7 linked regions of the Homo sapiens genome follow. The protein of the gene in region 5 purifies or fractionates together with the protein of the main gene of each other region. This does not show direct contact. Each region holds a gene or a part of one and is shown on either strand. Other genes may lie near its edges. The genes, in order: SLC7A2, MRM2, AGPAT3, TMEM87A, TSPAN5, RDH12 and TVP23C.

Region 1 (3,500 bases), on a different chromosome or scaffold from region 5:
CAGGATTCAGCCAGCCCTTCTATGAGTCACAGAGGTCCCTTGGTCCTTATTCATCTTGATATACTCATGGGATGTTTGGAATTAAGGAGCCCAAACTACCTTACTTGCATTTGAAGTCTTTCACTTCATATCCTACCCCATCAGTCTAAGAGCCCACCCAACAAGGGTAGCTACACATAGATGCTCACACTCTATAGGCTGCCTGATCCTGGAACCAGCCTGGGGCCCTGATTATGATCTCCACGGGGCTGTCAGTGGCTAGGGAAAGCTCTTTAAGACCCAGCGATCATGGCAGTGGCATCAACCATGGTGAATCAAAGTTAAGTATAATGCTCCCAGCAAACAGTGTTACCAGTTGGGTTGAGCAATAACAAAATGCATTTGAAATCAGTAAGACTAAACCGTGTATATACAAACAATAATGAATATTACAAACACCAACAACCACAACAATAACAGATCAGGCTTCTCAAAATCCAGAAACCGGAAGGCTATTTTAAAGTGTTTAATATAATCATGTAAGGAAAAAAAATCTCCCCAAAACAATAAAGTCAAGCAATTTCATATCTATATGAACTTATTTTCATATCTATATGACTAAAAAATGAAAATGACCTTTGCTGGCATTATTGCTACGCGAATATCCATACTTTCCCCCTTGATATTTAAGGACATGTGGGAGAACTTTATAAACAAGTAAAGTGTGCAGAGAAGGCACTGTTTTGGCACTAGCAAAAAGGACAGTTAATTTCACATGAATCACGTGAACTTTAATAACGCATGATATACATGCTAAACTCAATCCTTTAAAGCCCTGCGGAAACTGTATTTTTTGTGGTAACAGTTGCTTGAAGCGTATTAGGAGAAATCATGAGCAGTATCACCGGAAAGGGAGAGTCAGAATCTTGGCATGATTTCATCACGCCAAGGTGTGATGTTCTGTAATCTCGGAACACACCCTGATTTAAGAGGAGGGAAGGCAAGGCTCAAGTGCTCCCTCTGTCATCATGGGTATTGGAGGCCGATGGCTTTTCCTTATGCTTCCTGCTAAGCATTTAAATAAATTTAGAAAATAGGTAAAAATAGATTCTAATTAAAGTGTTTTATTTTTATTTTTATTTTTTTTGAGGCAGGGTCTCACCGTTGCCCAGGCTAGAGTGCAGTGGCGTAATCTCAGCTCACTGCAGCCTCACTCTCCTGGGCTCAAGCGATCCTCCCACCTCAGCACCCCCAGTAGCTCTGACTACATGTGCATGCCACCATGCCCAGCTAATTTTTGTTTTTTTTGTAGAGACAGGGTCTTGCTATGCTACTCAGGCCGGTCTTAAACTCCTGGGCTCAAGCGATCAGCTTGCCTCGACCTCCCAAGATCCTAGGATTATAGGTGTGAGCGAGCCACCATGCCTGGCCTTAAAATTTTTTTAACAACTACCTGTAAGCACTCAGGACTTAAAAAGTATTTTGACTAATATTTAAAATTTTAAAGTTTTTAAAAATTTCTTTTATTCATAGAAATTAAAAGAAAACAAATAGTCTCTTATTTTTTAAAGGAGGGTAATTCTGAAACTAATATTTTCTATCAACTACGGCTGGTGATGGTAAAGTTCTATATATTAATGTTACTTTTTCATATATATCTCTCTTAAATGACACTTTGGCTTTCGTTCTCTCAATGTTTATCTCTGGGGAAAATGTGATTAAGATAATCAGTATTTTAGTATATATCAAAAGTTCTAATATAAGTTTTCCTCATAGTTTTTAACAGAGTTTGCATAGCTCTATTCTTAAATGTAGGACTGCCATTGCCTTTTGGTGGTAATTCACAAATTATTGTTTTTTTTTAAGAGTATAAAATTTGAGGTGCCATTACAAGAAATTCTCACTGAAAATGTTGAGAATATATTTCTTAATGTAGAAAAGAAAAGTAATTTAAGCTGCTTTTACTCAATCACAAAAGAATTTGCATATGTATTTCTTAATTACTGGAGAAGACTTTATATAATTTTGATTGATTACTAGTCAAAACTCTACAAAACATTTAGGTAATTCTGAGAAAGAAAAAAAAAATTTAGTTGAAAACATTATGAATTCACAAGCAGAAACAGAAAGGTGCCAAAGAGCTGGTGATACTGACTTTTGCTAATAAACACCTACCAGGACAGATCAGTCGGAAAAGGTGTGGCAGCAGCAAGTAAACAGGAATCCCCAAATGCCCCTACCTCTTCTCCATTCCAGATTACAAAGCACCTGCTATAATGTACTAGAGTTTAGTGATTTCATATTAGAAACATTATAAATACGTCTTAAAGAGTCTATAGGAAATATACATATAAAATCATAGTATATTTTAAAATAGTTTAAAAACTAAAAATTAGGTATAAGCATATCTATCAACATCAAACATCAATTTTTCTCCACATCAGTTGGGTTTTGTACCCACCTAATGACATAGTCAAAGCCCACCATAAACCCAACTTACTTATACACTGACGTTAGAGATACACACACACAGATATATATATACACTCATACAAACATATGTAACTGTTAACAAACATACAAACACACACATCCGTTGAGTCTTCACAGAAAAAAAGGCACAGTGGCTGACAAAGCATCTTTTCATAGATATTTGTGTCTGCAAAGTGTTTCAATGTGGAAAAATAATTTTTCACTAAATTCTGCTTCAAATTGAGCACAGTGGGCATAACAGTTTTAGCTGCCTATCACATTCTAAACAAGTTTCTTGGTTTCGTTACAGTAAAAGATTTGAGTGTTCATATATAACAATTGTTCACATTTCCTGTGTGAAGGGTCTATTCTTGATTGGGTATAGAATCAAACGGGTTTTCAGCGTACTGTGACAACAGCAAGGATTTATGAGCATGCCTACAGTCCCTACCAAAATACCCGAGCCTGTGCTTATCCAACTCCTTCTCTCCAGTAAACCACGCAGCTTGAGAGAAAATTCTGGGCTTCAGATTTTACCATGTGCACCCTGGAAGTTGTGGAATGTCCGTAATGAGTTCTGTGTCATGGATGCTATAACGCTAGCAGCCAGAAACCCAGGCTTTCTACCTGTTTCTTTGATGTTTAATCACAATAAACTCCTGGCTATACAAAACCATCGCAACTTGCTTTTTAATGGCATCAATAAAATAGCTCATTTCTTGGAAGACCCATGAGGAAAACGAATGTTTTCCTTGTCTTGGGATTACACGGGCCAGCTAGCATGCCTGGTAATGTTCACCATGCTGTCCTGGGAAATGTCACCCAGCCTCATCCAATGAACTATTTAATGATTTGTACGAGAAATAGTTCATGAGAAGCAAATACACTGCAAATAAACAGTCCACTATTAGGGAATCCTAAAAAGTAAAATATGACAATTAGAGAATCTTACATGTAAAAATTTGTTTACTCATTTACAAGGGTTAACTGTGTTTATATAGCTTTAATTCAATTTGATTCTTTTTAGTTTCCAGTTTTAAATAATCATG
Region 2 (2,755 bases), on a different chromosome or scaffold from region 5:
GGCTGAAGCAAGAGGATTACTTGAGCCCAGGAGTTCTAGTCCAGCCTGGGCAACATAGCAAGATCCTGTCTCTACAAAAAAATATAAAAATTAGCTGTAGTCTCAGCTACTCAGGAGACCCAGCTAAAATGAGGCGTGAGGCGTCCCATTTTCCTGGGGTGAAGACTGAGGGGTTTCGCCTTTGAAAAATGAGGTAATCTTCAAAATACCTGGACTTCCAATGTTTACACTAGGAATGAAACACGGTCCCTTTCTCTCCCCCTACCGTTGGAACAGCCTTTCTGTTAAGCAGACTGAACAAGAAAATCTGTGACTGTACCCTTAGCTTATCAACTCTGACAATTTCTCAACAGAACTACGGCCCTCCTCAGTGGAGGGGACTGTTGGGGAGATGGGGGCGTTGGGCTTGTGAAGAGGGGGCTTTGAATGTAGGTACAGAGTGAGAAGAGGGGGAGGCAGATGCTGAGATCAGTTATAGGCAACAAGTCTTGTTTTACGTAAGGTGACACAAAGGCATCTTTTTAGTTTTAGCAAACTGGTGTTACTCAAATATCAGCAAGTTATCTTTGTGTGTCTTTGTGTGTGTGTGTGTGAGACAAGGCCTCACTCCGTTGCACGGCCTCAGCTCACTGCAGCCTTGACTTCCCCAGGTTCGAGCGACCCCTGCCACCTCAGCTTCCCAAGGAGCTAGGACCACAGGAACATGCCACCACACCTGGCTAATTTTTTGTAGAGACGGGGGTTTCACCATATTGCCCAGGCTGGTCTCGAACTCCTGACCTCAGGTGATCCTCCCCTTGGCCTCCCAAAGTACTGGGATTACAGGTGTGAGCCACTGCGCCCGGCCTCACGCCTCACTTTATGCTCCTGAGCTTTCACTCCTATAATATCCAGTATGTTACAACCTTCGGAAATTTCCACCGAAGGCAAACAGCTTTGGCTGCATGCTTGTGACTTCCGGGAGGACAAGCCCAGGCAGATCACGCTCACGCTCTCTCCTTCTGTCACTTCCTCCTACAAGGCACGCTGGGCCACTCTCCTGCTTCATCTCAAGAGCACTTAGGGGAACAGAAACCACTGAAATCAGTTACTAGGAGGACTCCACGGTGATAAGCTCAGCAATGAGAAAAGGAACTGACATTTCCAACACAAATTCACTTATTTAGTCAATAAATGTTGAGCTGAAAAACAATAAAAAGGCTTTCAGGCTGACCACGATGGAAGCACCAGGAAGCACCTCGAGGATGCTGGGAGGCAGAGGCGGGCGGATCACCTGAGGCCTGGAGTTCGAGACCAGCCTGGCCAACATGGCAAAACCTCATCTCTACTAAACATACAAAAATTAGCCGGAAATCACTTAAACACAGGAGGCAAAGATTACAGTGAGCCGAGATGGCGCCATTGCACTCCAGCCTGGGCAACAGAGTGAGGCTCTATAAACAAAAAAAAAAAAAAAAAAAAAAAATGCTGTTGAAAAGCCCGAAGAGGCATATCCCCGCCTAAGTATGGGCAGGGGCCACCCAAGGGGATGCAGGTAGACACCAAGAGTTCATGGCAAACCTACCGCAAACCAGCAGCGAGGCAGATGTGCAGATCCAGGGGGCCAGCATTCCATTTCTGCACTTTCAACAAGTCATGAAACCCTGAGCCTGTTTTCTCACCAATAAATGGGGACCAGTGTCCCTACTCTAAGGTATTTGGGAGAGACTTGGGAGAGCTCTGGGTGGACTGTCTCACCCTGTTCAAATGCCAGTGCATGCAGCTACCCTGGCTTTACAGCAGGAAACATAAATGGCAAGGATATTCACCACAGCACACGCATCCCAGCCAAAAGCCAAAAGCAACCTTGATGCCACAGTGAGGGAGCTGGTTAAAGAACCTACGGTGCAAGCACTACATGGAATAGGATGAAACTTTCCCAATGACGACAGTGTCTTCAGTTGCATGGGCGGTTGGCTGATCTCATTATTCAGGAGAACCTTTTTATATAGAAAATCTTACTCAAAACCCTAAGATACAAAACAGATGAAAACTGTGTCTCAGCTTCATCCAGAGCAAAGAATCCATAGCCCTGGCCATGAAGCCTCTTCTAGGTTCCGGACGGAGCAGCCCCAGTGGGGCCACCAGGAAAGCCCCAGGGCTTATGCGACTTGGAAATTTAGCTGTGCTGTTGGGGAAAGATGTCAATACATCATTAAGAGTAGCCGGGCACCATGGCTCACATCTGTAATCCCAGCACTTTGGGAGGCCGAGGTGGGCAGATCACCTGAGGTCAAGAGTTCGAGATCAGCCTAGCCAACATAGTGAAACCCTATCTCTACTTAAAAAAACAAAAAGAAAAAATTAGCTGGGTGCGGTGGCGGGCGCCTGTAATCCCAGCTACTTGGGAGGCTGAGGCAGGAGAATCGCTTGAACCAGGTAGGCAGAGGTTGCAGTGAGCCGAGATCACACCATTGCACTGCAGCCTGGGCAAGAGTGAGACTCCATCTGGAGGGGGGGGAAGAACAAAAATAATAACAATAATAATTATATATATATATATATATATATATATATATATATATATATATATATATATAATACATATATGTATGTATCATTAAGCAAAAATAGCTCCAATAGGCTGCAAATTAGCAAGAAAAGTATGGCACAACATCGCTTTTGAAAATGTGAGGGATCTATGCATGCACAAGCCTGGAAGGATGCACACCACCATGCTGGTGCTGGTACCTGCGGGCGGTCTCATGCGAGGTGA
Region 3 (3,500 bases), on a different chromosome or scaffold from region 5:
CCGTTTCAAACACACACACACACACAAAAACACACACAACAAAACGAACAAGAAAACAAAAAAACAGAAATGCTAACAGCACAGGCAGCCCATTTTCCAAGACAGACCAGGAAGAAGGGACAGAAAAAGAATGGGGATGCACACTGAGCAGGGCGGGCAGAGCCAGGGCTCACTGGGGGCACCCTGCTCTGCCCCCTCCCCCGGCCAGATCCCCTTAGGATGGCCTGGTCAGAGCTGGGATTGCGGCGAGTAGCAAGCAGGTGGCCCAAGAGAAGCCTCCACGCCTGCAGCTCAGATGGGGGAGTCATGGCCCCATGGAAACAGCACCCCATGTGCAGAGGCTCTCATGGGGTTTCCCAGCCTGGGATGTGGGCAGCCGTGCATCAGGAGTTGGCGTGGCCTCCTCCAGGCATGCAGGGTATCGGGCTGCTCCGCGCACTCACCCACATGTACTCGGGGTAGTCCGACAGGCGCCTCAGCCCTTCGACCACGGTGTCCCGGTCCTCCTCCCACTTCCGCTTGCAGAACACAATCTCCAGAAAGTACCACGTCCAGCCGATGAGGGGCACGTAGAGCAGCTCCTTCTTAGCGAGGACCTTGGAGCTCTGGAGGGAGGAGAAGGAGGGGCACCTGGCACTTCAGCGTCGGACAGAGGCCAGGGGCTTGGCCAGGCTCCCGCTGCACCCAGCTCCTGTGTGGTGTCGCTCTAGGAGTCACGGCTTTGTGGCTCAGGGGGTCTGCTGTGAAGCAGGACCCGGCTTCTGAGGGTGAGTGGGTCGCCCCAGAAATGAGGAAACTGAGGCTCAGGCTTGGCTGGGAGGGCCCTCAGGGAAGGTGGATGAGCCGGATGCAGAGGCTGCCAGGCTTCCGGGGGGTGGCCTGGGGGTGCTGCCTCACACAGGGGCTTTGACTGCAATGAAATTCTTCTGCCAGCATCGGGGAGTAGTTTAGGTTTCATCTGAGGCAGCTTAGCTAACGGAAGTGGTTCTGCAGGGACGCAGGTGGGGTCATCTCAAAGGCAAAGGCCATGATGAGAAAGGAGGGCACAGCTCGGGGACAGCTGAGGCCCTGCGGGCCAGGGCCCCTCAACCAGCCAGGCACCACTGCCGAGCTCAAAGAGACGCCCCAGGAGGAACACCCAGGGACTCGGACCCCAGGGGCCTCCCCGGCACCTCCTCAGGGAGTCCCCTGCTCCCCTAGCCCTTTCCCTGGGAAACCCAAGGCTCTCCCAGCTCCTCTGCTGGGACCCCCACTGCTCCACCCAGTACCTCCCCCACCCAGGGCCCTCTTGCTCACCCCAGCACCCGCCTACTCCCCCAGATCCTCCCCAGGACCCTTGCCGCTCACTCCCAGCACCTCCCCTGGAAGGTGCTCACCCTAGCCTCTCCCTGGGACCCCCCACTCACCCCCAGCCCTCCCCAGGACCACCCCACCCTGCTCATCCCCAGCCCTCCTGGGACCCCGCCCAGCTCACTCCCAGTCACCACCCCACCCCCAGCCCTGCAGGGACCCCCTGCTCACCCCGGCCCTCCCTGGGTCCCCGCTCACCCCCGGCCCTCCCCGGGACCCTCCTGCTCACCCGTGGCCCTCCCCAGGTCCCCGCTCACCCCCAGCACTCCGAAGCGCTCACACATGGTCCACCCACAGAGGAAGTCGATCTCGAAGTTGTGGTTGAGGATGATGACTGCGTGCTCCTTCCCAAAGCGCTCTACCGTGGCCTGGTCCGTGAACAGTGTACACTCCGTGCAGGACCACCACTCCAGCAGCATGACCAGTTCTGCGGACAGGGGGAGGGCGTTGGCACTGGTAGGACCCCTCCTCCTGGGATGGTCAGGGAGCGCCCACAGGAGACACCTACAGTATTTTTGTCCAGAGAGGAAGTCTCTGCTAAACATGAGTTTTGATGACTTACACTGAGTACGTTTTATGAAATTACAATAACTTTCTCTAAGCAACAGTTGGGAGGAGACAGATGGAAGGTAGCAGCAGAAAGGGAGAGAACCGCCACTCTGCATGGAGACGCTGATCTTTACGCCCAATTACGCTTCTCACGTGCACCTTGGTGTGGCCGAGTACCGCACAGCCACGCCCCGTGAGAGGTGCAGAAGATGAAAAATGTCACTAGATGATTAGGAAGCAGAAAACAACCATCGTATGTCTGCAGAACAGACAGTGGGAAAAAATGAAGAGTTAAGAGCAGAATGGAATTATAGACGACAGAGTAATAGGAATTATATTTTCTCCTAAAACTTGCTTTGGGGTTACACTGGTTTTCCATATTTAAAAAAAAGCCATGTGAGGCCTAGCCCGCCCCCAGGAAGGCCGGCTGGGGGTGCTCGACGGGGCTTGCTGCTGGGCAGGTGGCCAGAGGCCTGCGGGGTCCCCAGAGACAGCAGGGCACACCTGACCCCGTGGGTGCTGGCATGTGAGGGGTGCCAGTCCTGGCTTTGAGTGCTTGTCCCCCCCACCCAGGGGTTCTTGGAGCCTCCTCCCTTGGTCTCTTCCCCTGGCTCCGGCCTGGTGAGCTGAAGACACTCTTCCCAGAAGTGTGGAGGGGCTCGTGCCGGGAGATCTGTTTGCCGGCAGGAGACCTGCACGCCTGGGAGGGCTCTGGGGCTGCTGGGAACGCAGCATCGTCTGTCTCCTGATGGGGACTCTGGGATGCCCTCATTCACCTTCGGGAGAACTGCAGGGCTGAAGAGTTCCGTGGTGAGAACGGTGCATCTTTGTCACACGTGGGCCTCAGAGGGAGTTAGTCCTGTTCAGAGGGCCATGTGGGGAAGGACAAGAGGGAGGCCAAGCAGGTGGGCCTCTTGTCGGCCACCAGAGTCTTGTGCCCCCCAGCCAGTTGTCCGGGAAGGATGGCCCCACAGAACCAGGACGCGGCTTCCAGCTCAGGACGGCCTCAGGCTTCTCGCGCTGGACACCAGCCCAGCTCTGAAGTGTGGGCTTTCTGCAAGGCCATTGCCCGGGGTTCTTTTATACCAGTTATTTATAAAGGACACTAGAGACCAATTCCAAAGACATCCTGCACGGGTGAACAAAGGGCCGCTACCCGAGATCACGCAGCTCAGCCCAGGATGGCCAGAGACGCCTGCAGACAGCGTGCAGGTGCAGGGAAGTGTCTTCCCAGCGGTCATGATGCTGCAGGCACATGCAGGCGAGCAGAAAGGACGCAGAAAGGAGAGAGGGAACTCAGGGTTTGTGGGGGTACCAAGGGACCCCAATTCCTTTAAAAGAGAAAGGTCACCTGTGGGCAGAGGCAGTGGACGGGAGGAAATCCTGCGTGTGGGGAGAAGACTCGCTGACCAAGCCCCCACAGCAGGCCTGCCCTGGCAGGGGCGCCCCCACCGCTGGCTCACCCCTGGCAAGTGCTTGAGACCTCTGCCTTTAGGGTCATGCCTAAAGGCTGGAGAAGGGGAATGAACTGAATGGGAGCCCACACAGCCAGCCAGACACAGGCACACTCCCCATGAGTGTTCTGGAAAGACGAGCTGCGC
Region 4 (3,500 bases), on a different chromosome or scaffold from region 5:
AAAGAAAATGAAATTGACAGAGGGTTAAAGTTGCTAGAAGTCTAAGAGAATTACATACAGAGGACAGTGTGATTTGAAAAGCAAATGTGCATCCACAAAGTGTTTGATTTAAGAGGCAATTTATTGCAAAACATATTGAGCCGTTTTCTTGTGGGCAAAGCCAAGTTTATAGTTTTTACAATATTGAATCTAATAGGTTGCTGTGGAGTCTTTTTTTAAAAAATAAGAAAATTAATTGAAATGGCCTAGAGAACCTTATACTTCTTCGTATTAATCCAGTGGTAACATAAATTTCTTTTCTCCTCTTTTTTAAGGAAGAGGTATCACTCTGTTGCTGGAGTGTAATGGCATGATCATGGCTCACCGCAGCCTGAACTCAATCAGTCCTTCCACCTCAGCCTCCCAAGTAGCCAGGACTACAGGCACCCACCACTGCTCCCAGCCATAAATTTCTTTATCACTTAGATTCTTTGGTTTCCTTCCCTGGCAAAGGGAATAATTATACAATTCTCAAAAATGGTGTGAAACTTCATTAGCTGCATTTTTTTTTCTTTTTTTGAGACGGAGTCTTGCTCTGTCGCCCAGGCTGGAGTGCAGTGGCACGATCTCGGCTCACTGCAAGCTCCGCCTCCCGAGTTCACACCATTCTCCTGCCTCAGTCTCCCAAGTAGCTGGGACTACAGGCGCCTGCCACCACGCCCAGCTAATTTCTCGTATTTTTTTTTTTTTTAGTAGAGACAGGGTTTCACCATGTTAGCCAGGATGGTCTTGATCTTCTGACCTAGTGATCCGCCTGCCTCGGCCTCCCAAAATGCTGGGATTACAGGCATGATTACACACCCAGCCTCATTAGCTGCATTTTAAGGAAGTTTTTGAAACTGAAATGTTAAGAAACAACAGTTACTTTAGATTAGATTAACTAGTAAGTGTATGACTCCAAAGTCTGCCATTTACACAAGAATTTCAGTCTGGATTTCAGTCTGGATTCCATTGATTAGAAAAAGAAAAAAAAATGCAAGTCTACTGCTTGGGAGGAGGAACTAAAACAATTAGCAATTTGGAGACAGGTGGAAAAGCATTCATTCGGGCACACACTAAATTTACAAAGCTCTAATAGATTTAAAAGAGAACATGAACTATACATATATTTTGAAAATCAGAGCCCAAAAGTGACTTAAAGCAAACAGAAAGAAGCCCACAGACATTTCCAATCCACACTGTCAAGATGTAAACAATATAATTGAACTGACCACAGAAAATGAGATTAAGCAGTACTAACCCCAGTAACTCTGAGGACCCCTTCCATGCCAGAGAACAAAAGATAGAGGGCTCCTGCTACTACAACCTTATGAAGAGTGACTCCAAGGCGTGGCCTAAAGAGGAAGCAAGGAGATATTTGAGTACATATGGGACAAATGCCGAAACAAGCTAAGTAACAGGAACTTGTGTTAATTAATATAGGCCAACAATTTAAAGCAATAAATAATATACACTTGATTCACCTAAGAGAAAAAAACTAAGACCTTATGGTCTTAAAACAAGATAGGGAACACTACAACTTGAGATCTTGTGTCTGGTTACCACATTTTAAAAAATGTTTCCTCAGAGAGTTTTGAAACATATTCACAAGTAGTATAATGCACCCTTATAAACCCTTCACCAAGGCCCAACAACCACTAACCTATGGTCAGTTTTGTCCCATGCATACCCCATCCCCTTTCCACCCTTTCATATTCTCTTGATGCAAATCCTAGACAGTATATCTTTGATATATTTCAGTATGTGTTTTTAATAAATGAGGACCTTATTTTTCTTTGGTATTTCAATGGCTACAAAAGGGCCTTTCTTTTTTTCCCCTAAAGAAACAGGGTCTCACTCTATCGCCCACGCTGAAGTGCAGTGGCCCAGTCACTGGAGCCGTGAACTCCTGGGCTCAAGCAACCCTCCCACCTCAGCCTCCCGAGTAGCTGAGGACTACAGGCACGTCCCACTACACCAGGCTAATTTTTTTTTTTTTTTTTGATGTTTTGTAGAGACAAGGTCTCACCGTGTTGCCCAGGCTGGTCTAGAACTCCTAGGCTTAAGCGATTCTCCTGCATTGGCCTCCCCAAGGGCTGGGATTACAGGCATGAGCCACTGTGCCTGGCCCACAAAAGAAACTTTTAAAAAACATCACCAAGATACCACCATCAAATCTAAAAATTCTAACGATTCCTTAATATAATCAAATATCCTATTACGGTTCATTAAATAGTATATTTGCAAGCTCGAAACCTAATATATGAAAAGTCTTCTGAGCAACTTCTGTTTGAAGGAGAAAAAGTCTTAACTCCTTGAGATTCAAAATCCTACACAACCAGAATCCACATGTTAACAAAATCCTTAGGTGATTCCTTAGTGTAGTGTAGTTTAAGATGTGCTGCCTTAAATCATGTCTGCATAGGCCTTACCAATATTTGTTCTTATATTTTTTGTTATACATTGGGGAAAACTCCATATGAGCAGGGAATTTTCTCCCCATTCATCTTGGAAACCTAGAATACTTCCTGGCATATAGGAGGCACTCAAATAATTGTTAAATAAATAAGTTTTAAGAATTAAAATTCCCCATATCTCTAATCCCATTTAAAGCAAAACTCCTTTAATTGAATAAACAAACTTAAAACAACTAACCTTAATCCTACTTAAAGCACTATAAAGTGATGCTATAGCATTACTTAATCCCACTTAAAGCAAAATTCCTTTAAATAATTGTCTATACAATTATTCTAATTCCTCTCCTCCTATACTCTCTGGAACTCTCCCCAATTAGGCTTTTGTCCCTATCTCTTCACCAAAACTATCACTATGACCCTCCATATAGGTAAACTCAATGGCCAATTCTCACTTGACCTATCAGGATCTCTTGACACAATCACTTCCTCCTTGAAACACATTCTTCAGTTTTCTACCCACCTCACTGGTCTCTCCTCAATTTCTTCTGCTAACTACTTCATCTTACAGACTTCTAAATAATATTAAATATTCAAGGGCCCAGCCCTTGGACCTCTTCTCTATATATACTCACTTCCTTGGTGACCAAATCCAGTCTCATGACTTTATTTATTTATTTATTTAACTTTGGAGATGGAGTCTCGTTCTGTTACCCAGGCTAGAGTGCAGTGGCATGATCTTGGCTCACTGCAATCTCCGCCTCCAGGGTTCAAGCGATTCTCTTGCCTCAGCCTTCCAAGTAGCTGGGACTACAGGTGCATGCCACCACAGCCGGCTAATTTTTTGTATTTTAGCAGACACAGGGTTTCACTGTGTTGTCCAGGCTGGTCTTGAACTCCTGACCTCAGGCAATCTGCCCGCCTTGGCCTCCCAAAGTGTGAGGATTATGGCGTAAGCCACCACGCCTGGCCTTCATGACTTTAAATAATATCTTTATCTTCATGACTCCCAAACTTTTATCTCTGCCCCAACCTCTCCCCTTTGTTTCCCCTACTTAGTTATCTAAT
Region 5 (3,500 bases):
TTTCTTTTTGCATCATGGAATGTAATGTTTAGAAGTAGCTGTTGGTCCGGAAGGTCTTCAAATGGTTGAGACTTGATATTTATTTAACTCAGAGAAGTAGAGAAAGTGCATCCCAGGGAAGTGAGGAAGGGGCTTGTGTAGTAGCCTTTGACTCCGGCCCCATTTAAGAACCACTGAATTTAACCGCTTGTTTTAATATATTTTAATTGGAAGACTGACTTTTTAAAGTTGAAAATGTAAAACACATGCACTTGTTTTTAAACAAACTCAGAGTAGAAACAAATATGATGAAAAGTTAACCTCTAAAATTTTTGGTGGTAATGGATATATCAACTATATATCCATTGATTGTGGTGACATTTTTGTGATGTATACAGATGTCAAAATTTATCAAATTGTATACTTTAAAATGTGCAATTTATTGTATGTCAGTTATACCTCCATTATTGCGGGATCTGGCCAGCAGCCTGCAATGCAACAGGGATCTCTCTGTTCCCAGGCGGATCGGCAGGTCGAGAAATAATAGACACACACAAGATAGTGAAAGCTGGGTCCAGGGGGGTCACCGCCTTCTGGTCACGCAGTGCCAACAATGCACTGGATATACCAGAATTTATTATTAAGTTTAGTGAGGGTGGGGGTAGGTTAGTGAGGGATTTAGGTCATTTGATTATGAGGTGAGATGGTCACATGGGGATGAAGTAATTCTTTAACATAACATCTGTATGCAAAAGTACAGTATACAGGGATAAGAATTTACAATATAGTGTGTGCTTCAGTAATTTCTAACAGAGCCTTAAAACAGAAACACAGTCTTTCCACAACCTATGATTAGCAAGATATTAGTCAGCAGTAACAGTTGCAGCAAAAGCCAGTTACAAACAATCCATAGAAACAGGACGTGAAGCTACACAACCAGTTAGACCAGAAATTCTCAGAAGGGAGTATGCCTTAACCCTAAAGAGGTCTAGAAGAGCCGTGGCAAGATGAGGGCATTTATAGCCCTGTCTTATACATATGGACAGGTGCCCCTCATGTGTCTGTTTATAGGCTCTCCACAAAGGTCGCATTCTATTCCCAGAGCTATGAACATCTGCTTTTCTGGGATAGGAATCTTGGTGATGTGAAACCTCCCTGACTGCACGTCCATTCATAGGCTCTCTGCAGGGGGAAGCACATCACGCACTGTTGGCTCATTCTGGCAGTCCAACCTGGCATTGTCTTTACACAATCCTGCATGCAATTTTGTATTTCCAGTAATCAGGAGCATTTCATCTTTTATTCCATAGCAATAGTTTCAGGGGGTCTCCCTGCGCTCCATAAAACAAAACAGATCTTTAAAAAAACTATTAGAATGTAGAGATCAAAACTTTGAAAAAGTAAGCTATAGTTAGCCCACCCATAACCCCAGTTGCCTCCTTCAGTCACTACCACTGTCGTTAGTGTCTTATTTACCCTTCTAGAATGTTCTTGTTTCTCCTTCTAGAATGACGTGCCCAAGCCAAACAGATCTTGTTCTAACTGAGCCCTGCTGTACAGCTGCTCTGCCCTTCTTCCACCTAACACCACAGGTCTCATCAGTTGTTTAAATCACGTGCCAACACATCCCTACAAACCTTCAGCCCTAATTAATTTGGAAGATTTTATATGGGCCATTTAGGTTCAGTTTGGCTTAAAAATAAAGTCTAGGACAGAAAAGAAGGTCAGAGCTGGCAGAAGCTGGTGTCGTTCGGCGGGTGTGAGTGTAGGTGACTGCTTGCCTCCAAGTTGGGATGTTCTAATTCTTTCCTGTTTGCTCTAGTGGCAGTGCTGTGGGGCTTTTGGAGCTGATGATTGGAACCTAAATATTTACTTCAATTGCACAGATTCCAATGCAAGTCGAGAGCGATGTGGCGTTCCATTCTCCTGCTGCACTAAAGATCCCGCAGTAAGTGAATGCCAGCGAACTATTGGCCTACTCTGTACATCATGCCGAGAGTGTGCATGGGACGAGCAGAGTGATTTTTTGGTTGAACCCTCTTCTTACCTGGTTACTCGTATTTGTAGCTCCTGTAGGGGGTTATGGTGCTCAAATCTTCCTAGTAGGAGTAATAATTGCTGGCATTAATTTAGCAGTGTGTGCTGGTTCCTATTCTAAGCCTTTATGTGTGTTGGCTCATTTAAGTTGGGCACATTCCTACTGGCAGATACCACCATTACCCTCCCTTTTCAGGGGAAGAAATCAAGGCACATGAGGTGTAAGTGACTTTCCCAAGCTTGCACTGCTAGCAGGCAATGGAGTGGAATATGAGACCCAGGCAACTTGCCTGTATCATCTGTTAGCCTTTCTTCATGAGAAGGGCAGGCTCATATGAGAGCTCTCTGCATTGGTTTGGGGTTAGTAACCCTTTTCTTTTTGGCTTAGTTCTAGGGGAACTATTAGGAGTAGGAGGAGAGTTTGAGACAAGATAGGCCTGGACTGCTGTGTAGGAAGACCACAGCTGCCCAGACTCCTGAATGTCATCATGACTATAGTCATGCAGTTTGCATTTTATTATAAAAAAGAATAAAATATAAAATCTATTTGTAAGTCACTCACTTTTGCCACAGGTTTGATTATATTTTGTGTCAAATCGTGCCTGGTATATAGAATGACTTAAAATGCAATTCTTAAGCCAGGCATAGTAGTTCACACCTGTAATCCCAGCACTTTGGCAGGCTGAGGTGGGAGGATCCCTTGAGCCCAGGAGTTAAAGACCAGCCTGAGCAACATAGTGAGACCCCATCTCTACAAAAAAATTAAAAAATTAGCCATGTGTGGTGGCACACACCCGTGGTCCCATCTACTCTGGAGGCTGAAACAGGATCACTTGAGCCCAGGAGTTTGAGGCTGCAGTGAGCCATGATCATGCCACTGCCCTCCATCCTGGTGACAGAGTGAGACCACAATTCTTAAAAAAAAAAAAAAAAGGTAACTCTCTAGTGTTAGAATGACAAACATGAGAGGTTACTCCACGCATCTCTGTGTGCTCCTAGCTGCAGAACCCTTCTGGGACTCCTCAACTGTTCTCTGGCCCTGCAGTCTCCAGATGTACTCCCCAAGGCTCGCCCTTACCCCTCAGAAGCAGAGCCGAGTGGGTGCTGATGAGCTCAGTGGGGATGCTCCTTCTTATGGTGGAGGCTGTGGGGCTCTTAAAAGGAGCTATGGTCTTGGAGTGGAAAAGCAGAACTTCCCTGTGGGCTTCCTCCAGGGGACCACCTCAGCTGTTTCTCTTGGTCTGAAAGAGGAGACAAAGTCACTAAGGACTGTGCTGCCCCGCCAGCTGCCCTTCCCACCAGCTCAAACCTCCTCTCCCTTCTGAGGAGAGCCACATGGCAGCAGAGTGCCCACTCAGAGCTTGAGGGGCTCATCCTGGTGGCCTTGCACTGGCCAGCGGGTGCCGCACAGTGCGCCTCCTGTCGCCAGTTCCTGTCCCACATTAACACTCCCTTGGGAGAATTCTGTATTCTCAGAGGCATTA
Region 6 (3,500 bases), on a different chromosome or scaffold from region 5:
AATTTAACAAAGATAAACATGTAAGTTGTTGCAAAATGATACGGTTTTCAACAGAAATTAAGGCCATTGGGGCAGAGATAAATTGATAAAAGTTTATTGGAAGCCAAATGTGAGAATTTATCCAGTAAGATACACCAACAAAGTTGGGCATGTTCCAACATCTGTTACAAGTTGGAATGCTTTTATAAGACTGTTTAGGAGAAGGAAGGGGGACTCCTCATATCGGAGTTATCCTTTTCCATTGGAGGGTACAATACAGAGGTTACAATCATTGCCTATGGATGACAGCGTACAGGCTAAAATGTTTTATGCACAAGACAATCAGTAAAAACAAATCAGCAGAGCTTTATGATTTAGAAAGAAAACAATGTCCCTTTCAATGTCAGTATTAATCAGTAACCTGACAATTAATAAATACATAGTTTGAGGAACTCGCAATAGAATTTGAGTGCCTCACGATAAGATTCTTTACTCAGAGACAGGATGTAAGCCATCAGTCTTAAGACCTTTTCCAAGCAGTTCATTTGGAAGCCTGTGAAATGTGTCCTGCAGGTTATCAGGGTCTTTTTGCTGAAAAGTTTATTTATTTTTTCTTTTCTTTTTTTTAGAGACAGGGTCTTGCTCTGTTGCCCAGGCTGGAGTGTAGTGGCATGATCATGGCTCAATGCAGCCTCAACCTCCTGGGCTCAAGTGATCCTCCTGCCTCAGCCTCCCAAGTAGCTGGGACCACAGGTGTGTGCCACCAGGCCAGCTAATTTTTAGTTTTCCTTTTTGTAGAGACGGGGTCTCACTATGTTGCCCAGGTTGGTCTTGAACTTCTGGTCTCACGTGATCCTCCTGCCTCGGTTTCCCAAAGTGCAGGAATTACAGATGTAAGCCACAGTGCCCAACCAAAATTTAATGTTTATTTACTTAAGTTTTTTATTTATTCTGTTTCTTAATTATTTATTCTTTTTTTACAGCTGTATACTATCTATTATGTGGCTTTACTATTGATGGACATTTAGGAGGTTTCCAAACTTCTGCTATAATATACAATGCTATAATGGTAACCTTATAAATACATGGAAGTCGAATGTTTAGGTGAATGAGTGCATGCACAGCTTTACTAGACATTACAACACTTCTCTCTATGGAGGCTTTAACAATGGACTCTCCCACGAGCAATGCATCAGCATTATTTCTTCACATGCTTGCCAGTGGATCATACTACAATCTTTTTGACCTTTGGCAATCTGATAAGTGAAAAGTGGCTCCCAGTATAATTTTAATTTGCATCTCTCATATGAGTGAGGGTGAAGAGCCACTTGTATTTCCTTTTTTGTAAACTGCTATTTCAATTGGGTTGTTATTCCTTTTCTTACTGATTTGTAAGAGTTCTTTATCTACTAAATCAATTAGTCTCTTGTCTTCAAAGCCTGTTATGAATATTTCCCCCCAGTTTCTCATTTATCTTGCCTTGTGTATGATGGTTTTTGTCATGCTCATTTTTTAAGTTTTAGTTTTCAGTTTCCTGTCTTACTAGAAAGGTCTTACCACTCTAAAAATGTGTCCAGTGGTTCTTCTTAATACTTCAGTGGTTTCATTTCTCATACTTACGTCTTTGAGGTATTCGAATTTTGGAAGGATCAAGTTTGCTTTTTCCCAGCTGGATACCTAGGTGCCACAATACTTTGTTAATTAAATCATCTGTCCCTTCCACTGATTTGAAATGGCATTTTCATCATATCTAAATGCCCATGTGTATTTGGGTCTATTTCTTGCCTTTCCATTCTGTTCTATTGATTTGTCTGCCTATTCACCTACCTGTACTTAGTAGTATGGTTTAGCATTTTGGTACAACTTATCAATGATATGATGGTGGCCTTTGGATTATAATATTTAACATTTTATTTTAGCAAAGTGTTTGTGTATTTTCATAATTCTAGATGCCTTATGGTCCTTCTAATATCTTCTCTCCAGAGGACTGTATGCTGTTCTTAAGGACTCTCTGCTTCCTGGACAAGCTCAAGCTAAGGTGAGTACCATCTTCTTAAATGCAAGGATCTTAGATTTGAGTCAAGAAGTGTCTGCTGGGAATGATCTGATCACTCCTTGTTCTGTTGGTCAGGTCCATGGGTTTCCCCAGGGGCAGAAACTGTGTCTTCCTAGTATGTTGCACAATTCCTGGTGCAGAGAAACACTCAGTAAATGTGTGTTGAGGATGAACTGATGAATGAGGACATGAACACCTGCCTGCCACAGAAGTCTTTCATGCATGGGTGTTCCTGGAGGCTCCTCTGGCTTCACAGGAAGGGACAGAACTGGGAAATTATTCCTGGGGTCCTGTCCCAGCTCCTTGTCTATTCTTCTGTCCAAGAGAGGAACACAGAGCGAGGAAGGGCAATGAATCCCACTTACCCTTCTCCCATCTCACACACATCCAGAGGCACGATCCTAGCTCACTTCAACCTTGACCTCTGAGCTCAAGTGATCCTCCCTACTCAGCCTCCCGAGTAGCTAGGATTACAGGCACGCACCACCACACCCAGATAATTTTTTGTAGAGACAGGGTCTCACTAAGTTGCCTAAGCTCAGTCTTGAACTTCTGGCCTCAAGGGATCCCCCTACCTTGGGCTCTTTACCAGCATTTTCTTGTATTTCTCCTCATCTTCAATAGCATTCAACTGAAACATCACCCACGTTCATCATCTCTCCCTTTTCTACACCATGGCCTTGAGTAAAGCAAGTGAGATAGCAAGGGAGATACGAATCAGAACAGCTAACCATAACAGCTGACTCTTATATACTGTTTAGCATATGCCAGTTTCGTTTTCCACCAATGTAATAATTGAACACTTAGAACAAGTGGGGATATATATATATATATATATATATATGTATAACACATATATATATAAAACCATATATTATATATATAATCATACCCATTGTACAAGTGAGAAAACTGAGTTAACAGAGAGGTTTAGTAACTTGCCCAGGGCCGTGGAGCTTTTAAATAGATTCAGCGCTAGAGTCCATGCACTTAAACACCATACCTTTCCTTGTAATATGCATGTGCGTGTGTTAACTTCATTGAAGTAAAATATAAAATGCAGAAAAGTGCACAAGTCGAAAGCATACGACTCAGCAGATTTTCATAAAGTGAGCACACCCATGTACTAGCACCCAGATGAAAGAGCAGAGCACTCTCAGCCCTCCAGGAGTTCCAGTCATCTCCCTCCCCAGTCACTGCCCCCTCCTCCCTAAGGTTAACTGCTCTTCTGACGTCTCTCTCCATTCTTCTGGGAGTTTCCTTCCCATCCTATTTTAATCCACTCATATTTTAAGCATCATGGGGTTTGTGGCTAAAGTTAGAAATATTCTATATATTCCATCTTGCAGTAGAGGTGGCAGTGGTTGGGAGAACACATTTCCTAGAGAAGAGAAACAATTGAGGATGGGGGGTTTAGGGGGTACTTGCTTTAGTTTCCCCACATTCTCTTTGCCAGTAAACCTAA
Region 7 (3,500 bases), on a different chromosome or scaffold from region 5:
TCCCAGCTACTCGGGAGGCTGATGCAGGAGAATGGCGTGAACCCGGGAGGCGGAGCTTGCAGTAAGCCGAGATCACGCCACTGCACTCCAGCCTGGGCGACAGAGCAAGACTCCATCTCAAGAAAAAAAAAAAAAAAGACCTAGTCACTTTTCCCAAGAGATTTAACCAATAATTATTTACCTATGACTACTACTCATCCTGCTGAAAACCCTGATGTTGAGGTATTATAGTAAAATCCTTATGTTCTAGGGGGAAAAAAACATCTGAGTACAAATGTTATGGTCTTCTTGTGATTCAACTGTTCTCCCTAAAACCATACAACATACAGGCTGGGCACGGTGGCTCACGCCTGTAATCCCAGCACTTTGGGAGGCTGAGGTGGGCAGATCACAAGGTCATGAGATGGAGACCATCCTGGCTAACATGATGAAATCCCATCTCTACTGAAAATACAAAAAATTAGCTGGGCGTGGTGGCATGCGCCTGTAATCCCAGCTACTCATAAGGCTGAGGCAGGAGAATCACATGAACCCGGGGGGCAGAGGTTGCAGTGAGCCGAGATTGCACCACTGCACTCCAGCCTGGGCGACAGAGCAAAACTCTGTCTCAAAAAATAAAAATAAAAACATACAACATACATTCTGCAAGGGCATTCACTTAAAGCTCCCATAATTGATGAAAAACAACTGAACTTAAAAGTAATTTTTAAAAAATAAGTTATTATCAATGATAGTTTATCCTTCCTGGCTTTAAAATAATTTTAGGATACTGACAATACACTTCCAGACTGTCTTGAACACCCCCAAAGAGCAATTACAACATCTTTATCATTATATTTATACAACTATATGCCTTTAAAACTTCTGTTCAGGAGCGTTTCATAAAAATTAAACTATGAAAGTTAGAAATAATTGCATTAGTCACTGATCACATCCAGAAAACACTTACTTGTCTTAAAAACTGCTTTCCAAAATATGAAGTAGCCATGCTGGTTAAATGCTTTCTGCTGCGCACCTTACACCTGATGTAACCATACAGGTTGGCACCTTGTAGCACCACACCCATAATAACCACCGCCTGGGACAAGGGAAAAAAATAATCAACGGTTACTGGCCTGAAATTGACCTTTCTCTGTGCCATAAATGAGACAAGGCAGACTGTCATGAGAAAGAGAAGGAAGAGGAAGCTCTGCAAAGCCATGATTGTGCCAGTTGAGATTTTCCAGAGACAGTTGCCAGAACAGACCCATCTGATAGACGCTCTGCACAAGGCACGAGTCATTCACCCAGCAAATATTTACTGGACACAACTGCTCTATGTGCCAGGCACCATGCTAGCTGCTGGGGATGCAGTGCAGGGGGAGCCTTCTTGCTCTCTGTTTCCCATTGGTCTGTGAGTAAAGTTAGGAAAAGTAAATGAGACTCAGGAAAGGTTCAAATGTTAATTATTCCTATAGGAATTACAAAAGAACAGTCAAGAGGTAGATCAAGTTCAATAAACTGAGAGCAGGTAGGGGTGAATCTCTGCTCTACGTGACAACTGGCTTCTGGTAGAGGGGATGCAATGCCCTAAGGCATAAATCAACCGATGCCTGCCTTCCCCGAGGAGAGAGACAGCTCCAAGGGGAACTGTACTTTTGCAGAGCTGTTTGTTCCTTTGAGTTTCATTTTCTCACCTATGGTGATCCCACTAGGATCAATGAGAAGTGAGAAAAAGAAACTCAAAACCCATTCTTTAAAAATTTCTAATTAATCTTAATTAGAAAAATTGAGACAATGTGAGGGATTCCCAAGGTTAAAGACTCTAATACAGTGATCAGCAAAGTTCTCCTGTAAAGGGTCAAATCATAAATATTTCAGACCATACGGTCTCTGTTGCAATTACTCAACTCTGCTGTTCTAATCCAAAGGCAGCCATAGACAATATATAAGTGGGCAAGGCTGTTTTTCAATAAAAACTTACAAAAACAGGTGTCGGGCTGGATTTGGTCTGCAGGCCATAGTTTGCCAACCCTTGTTCTGGAATAAACAGCTCATCGACCATTCTACTCTTTTATATCTGTGACAAGCAAAGCAGCTCAATGAAATGTCGTTTTCCAATCTAGATTTATTCTCCTTACCCTTAACAAGATGTATAGCTGATTTTAATGTTTAATTAATAGATTTAAATGTTTGATTAATGAACAGGTTCACATTCCTAGTAAAAGAAGAGGAGGTGGTACTTTCTGTTCTAAACTTATGTTTCATGGAATTAAACGTGTTAGTGTAATAAGAGGGTGCTAGTTTCCTAAATAAATATAAAACTGTGTATTTATTTGAATAAATTTCCTTTTAATTTCCCATGCTTCTCAAATGGGGCACTGCTGGGTATTGTATATATCAACATGCCAGGGTACACCTGAATTCAAAGACCAATCACGGGTCCTGCTAAGGCATCGATTTACTCAATGGCAACAAATGTTAAAATCTGTAAGTTAAACTTCTGGTTTAAGATGGTGCAGTGAAGTCAGACATGAAGATCTCCCTGCCCTTAAGGTACAAACAGCAAACAGCGTTTTTAAAAACACAAATAAACTAATACCAACAAACACAAAAAAGGGCTGGTGGCCAAAGAAAGAGCCAGGTTGGAGCAGCTCTACATAGCTCCAAACTCTGCAAAGAAGCTCTAAGGAAAATTTCACTAATAATTACCATCCCCAGGAACTTATAGAAAAGCAAAAGACCCGAGAAAAAAATGCAGAAATAGCCATGACAGCAGAAACTCCTCCCAACTAACAATGACCCAAACAGGCAGGAAAATCCCTGCAGCTGGCCATAGTGGTGCCACCGGGTGGGAAGAAGGCAGGAGACGAAGCGCAGAAGGATCAATAATCATGAGAGATGATCATCTTAAGAGAAGTGAGGAGGTGGGAGACTCATGGAGAGACTGGGTGAAGCCCATTCCCGTCCTGTGGTCTTAACCCATTTATTTTTATTATTTTTATTTATTTATTTTTATTTATTTATTTTTTGAGACGGAGTCTCGCTCTGTCACTCAGGCTGGAGTGCGGTGGCACGATCTCAGCTCACTGCAAACTCCGCCTCCTGGGTTCACTCCATTCTCCTGCCTCAGCCTCCCGAGTAACTGGGACTACAGGTGCCTGCCACCACACCCGGCTAATTTTTTTATTTTTAGTAGAGACAGGGTTTCACCGTGTTAGCCAGGATGGTCTCGATCTCCTGACCTCGTGATCCGCCCGCCTTGGCCCTCCCAAAGTGCTGGGATTACAGGCATGAGCCACCATGCCAAGGTCTTAACCCATTTATGCTGTAGGCTGCAATTTTGTGAATTTTTGCATGAGTGAAAAATCAGACCTTGGTGATTACCTTGAGCAGTAGGATATAAATAACTCCTACATGCTTAGCGTTCCAATAATGGAACACTAGGCATAAGTAGGTTAACACAGGATCAAACTGGCTTTCACATAACCTCTCCCTGTTTTGTTTTAAGGAAGTAGAAA

The links.
Region 1: the proteins of TSPAN5 (region 5) and SLC7A2 purify together in Homo sapiens (affinity purification with mass spectrometry; 3 studies listed by BioGRID and IntAct, with this or other methods). This does not show direct contact.
Region 2: the proteins of TSPAN5 (region 5) and MRM2 purify together in Homo sapiens (affinity purification with mass spectrometry; 3 studies listed by BioGRID and IntAct, with this or other methods). This does not show direct contact.
Region 3: the proteins of TSPAN5 (region 5) and AGPAT3 purify together in Homo sapiens (affinity purification with mass spectrometry; 3 studies listed by BioGRID and IntAct, with this or other methods). This does not show direct contact.
Region 4: the proteins of TSPAN5 (region 5) and TMEM87A purify together in Homo sapiens (affinity purification with mass spectrometry; 3 studies listed by BioGRID and IntAct, with this or other methods). This does not show direct contact.
Region 6: the proteins of TSPAN5 (region 5) and RDH12 purify together in Homo sapiens (affinity purification with mass spectrometry; 3 studies listed by BioGRID and IntAct, with this or other methods). This does not show direct contact.
Region 7: the proteins of TSPAN5 (region 5) and TVP23C purify together in Homo sapiens (affinity purification with mass spectrometry, with the first as the bait; 3 studies listed by BioGRID). This does not show direct contact.

The regions. Positions count from the first base shown.
Region 1 is NC_000008.11:17,566,588-17,570,087, reverse strand, and holds part of SLC7A2 (cationic amino acid transporter 2), read right to left. Parts: 3' UTR 1-3,500. UniProt on the Homo sapiens protein: Functions as a permease involved in the transport of the cationic amino acids (L-arginine, L-lysine, L-ornithine and L-homoarginine); the affinity for its substrates differs between isoforms created by alternative splicing.
Region 2 is NC_000007.14:2,236,451-2,239,205, forward strand, and holds part of MRM2 (rRNA methyltransferase 2, mitochondrial), read right to left. Parts: intron 1-2,755. UniProt on the Homo sapiens protein: S-adenosyl-L-methionine-dependent 2'-O-ribose methyltransferase that catalyzes the formation of 2'-O-methyluridine at position 1369 (Um1369) in the 16S mitochondrial large subunit ribosomal RNA (mtLSU rRNA), a universally conserved modification in the peptidyl transferase domain of the mtLSU rRNA.
Region 3 is NC_000021.9:43,966,223-43,969,722, reverse strand, and holds part of AGPAT3 (1-acyl-sn-glycerol-3-phosphate acyltransferase gamma), read right to left. Parts: intron 1,778-3,500; coding exon 1,608-1,777; intron 606-1,607; coding exon 444-605; intron 1-443. UniProt on the Homo sapiens protein: Converts 1-acyl-sn-glycerol-3-phosphate (lysophosphatidic acid or LPA) into 1,2-diacyl-sn-glycerol-3-phosphate (phosphatidic acid or PA) by incorporating an acyl moiety at the sn-2 position of the glycerol backbone.
Region 4 is NC_000015.10:42,231,934-42,235,433, forward strand, and holds part of TMEM87A (transmembrane protein 87A isoform 1 precursor), read right to left. Parts: intron 1,374-3,500; coding exon 1,280-1,373; intron 1-1,279. UniProt on the Homo sapiens protein: Potential monoatomic ion channel gated by mechanical force, implicated in normal touch sensitivity through the generation of mechanically activated currents.
Region 5 is NC_000004.12:98,477,112-98,480,611, reverse strand, and holds part of TSPAN5 (tetraspanin-5), read left to right. Parts: intron 1-1,801; coding exon 1,802-1,927; intron 1,928-3,500. UniProt on the Homo sapiens protein: Part of TspanC8 subgroup, composed of 6 members that interact with the transmembrane metalloprotease ADAM10.
Region 6 is NC_000014.9:67,718,886-67,722,385, forward strand, and holds part of RDH12 (retinol dehydrogenase 12), read left to right. Parts: intron 1-1,928; exon of another isoform or gene 1,929-1,962; 5' UTR 1,963-2,017; intron 2,018-3,500. UniProt on the Homo sapiens protein: Retinoids dehydrogenase/reductase with a clear preference for NADP. Displays high activity towards 9-cis, 11-cis and all-trans-retinal. Shows very weak activity towards 13-cis-retinol.
Region 7 is NC_000017.11:15,539,484-15,542,983, forward strand, and holds part of TVP23C (Golgi apparatus membrane protein TVP23 homolog C), read right to left. Parts: intron 1,079-3,500; coding exon 929-1,078; 3' UTR 1-928.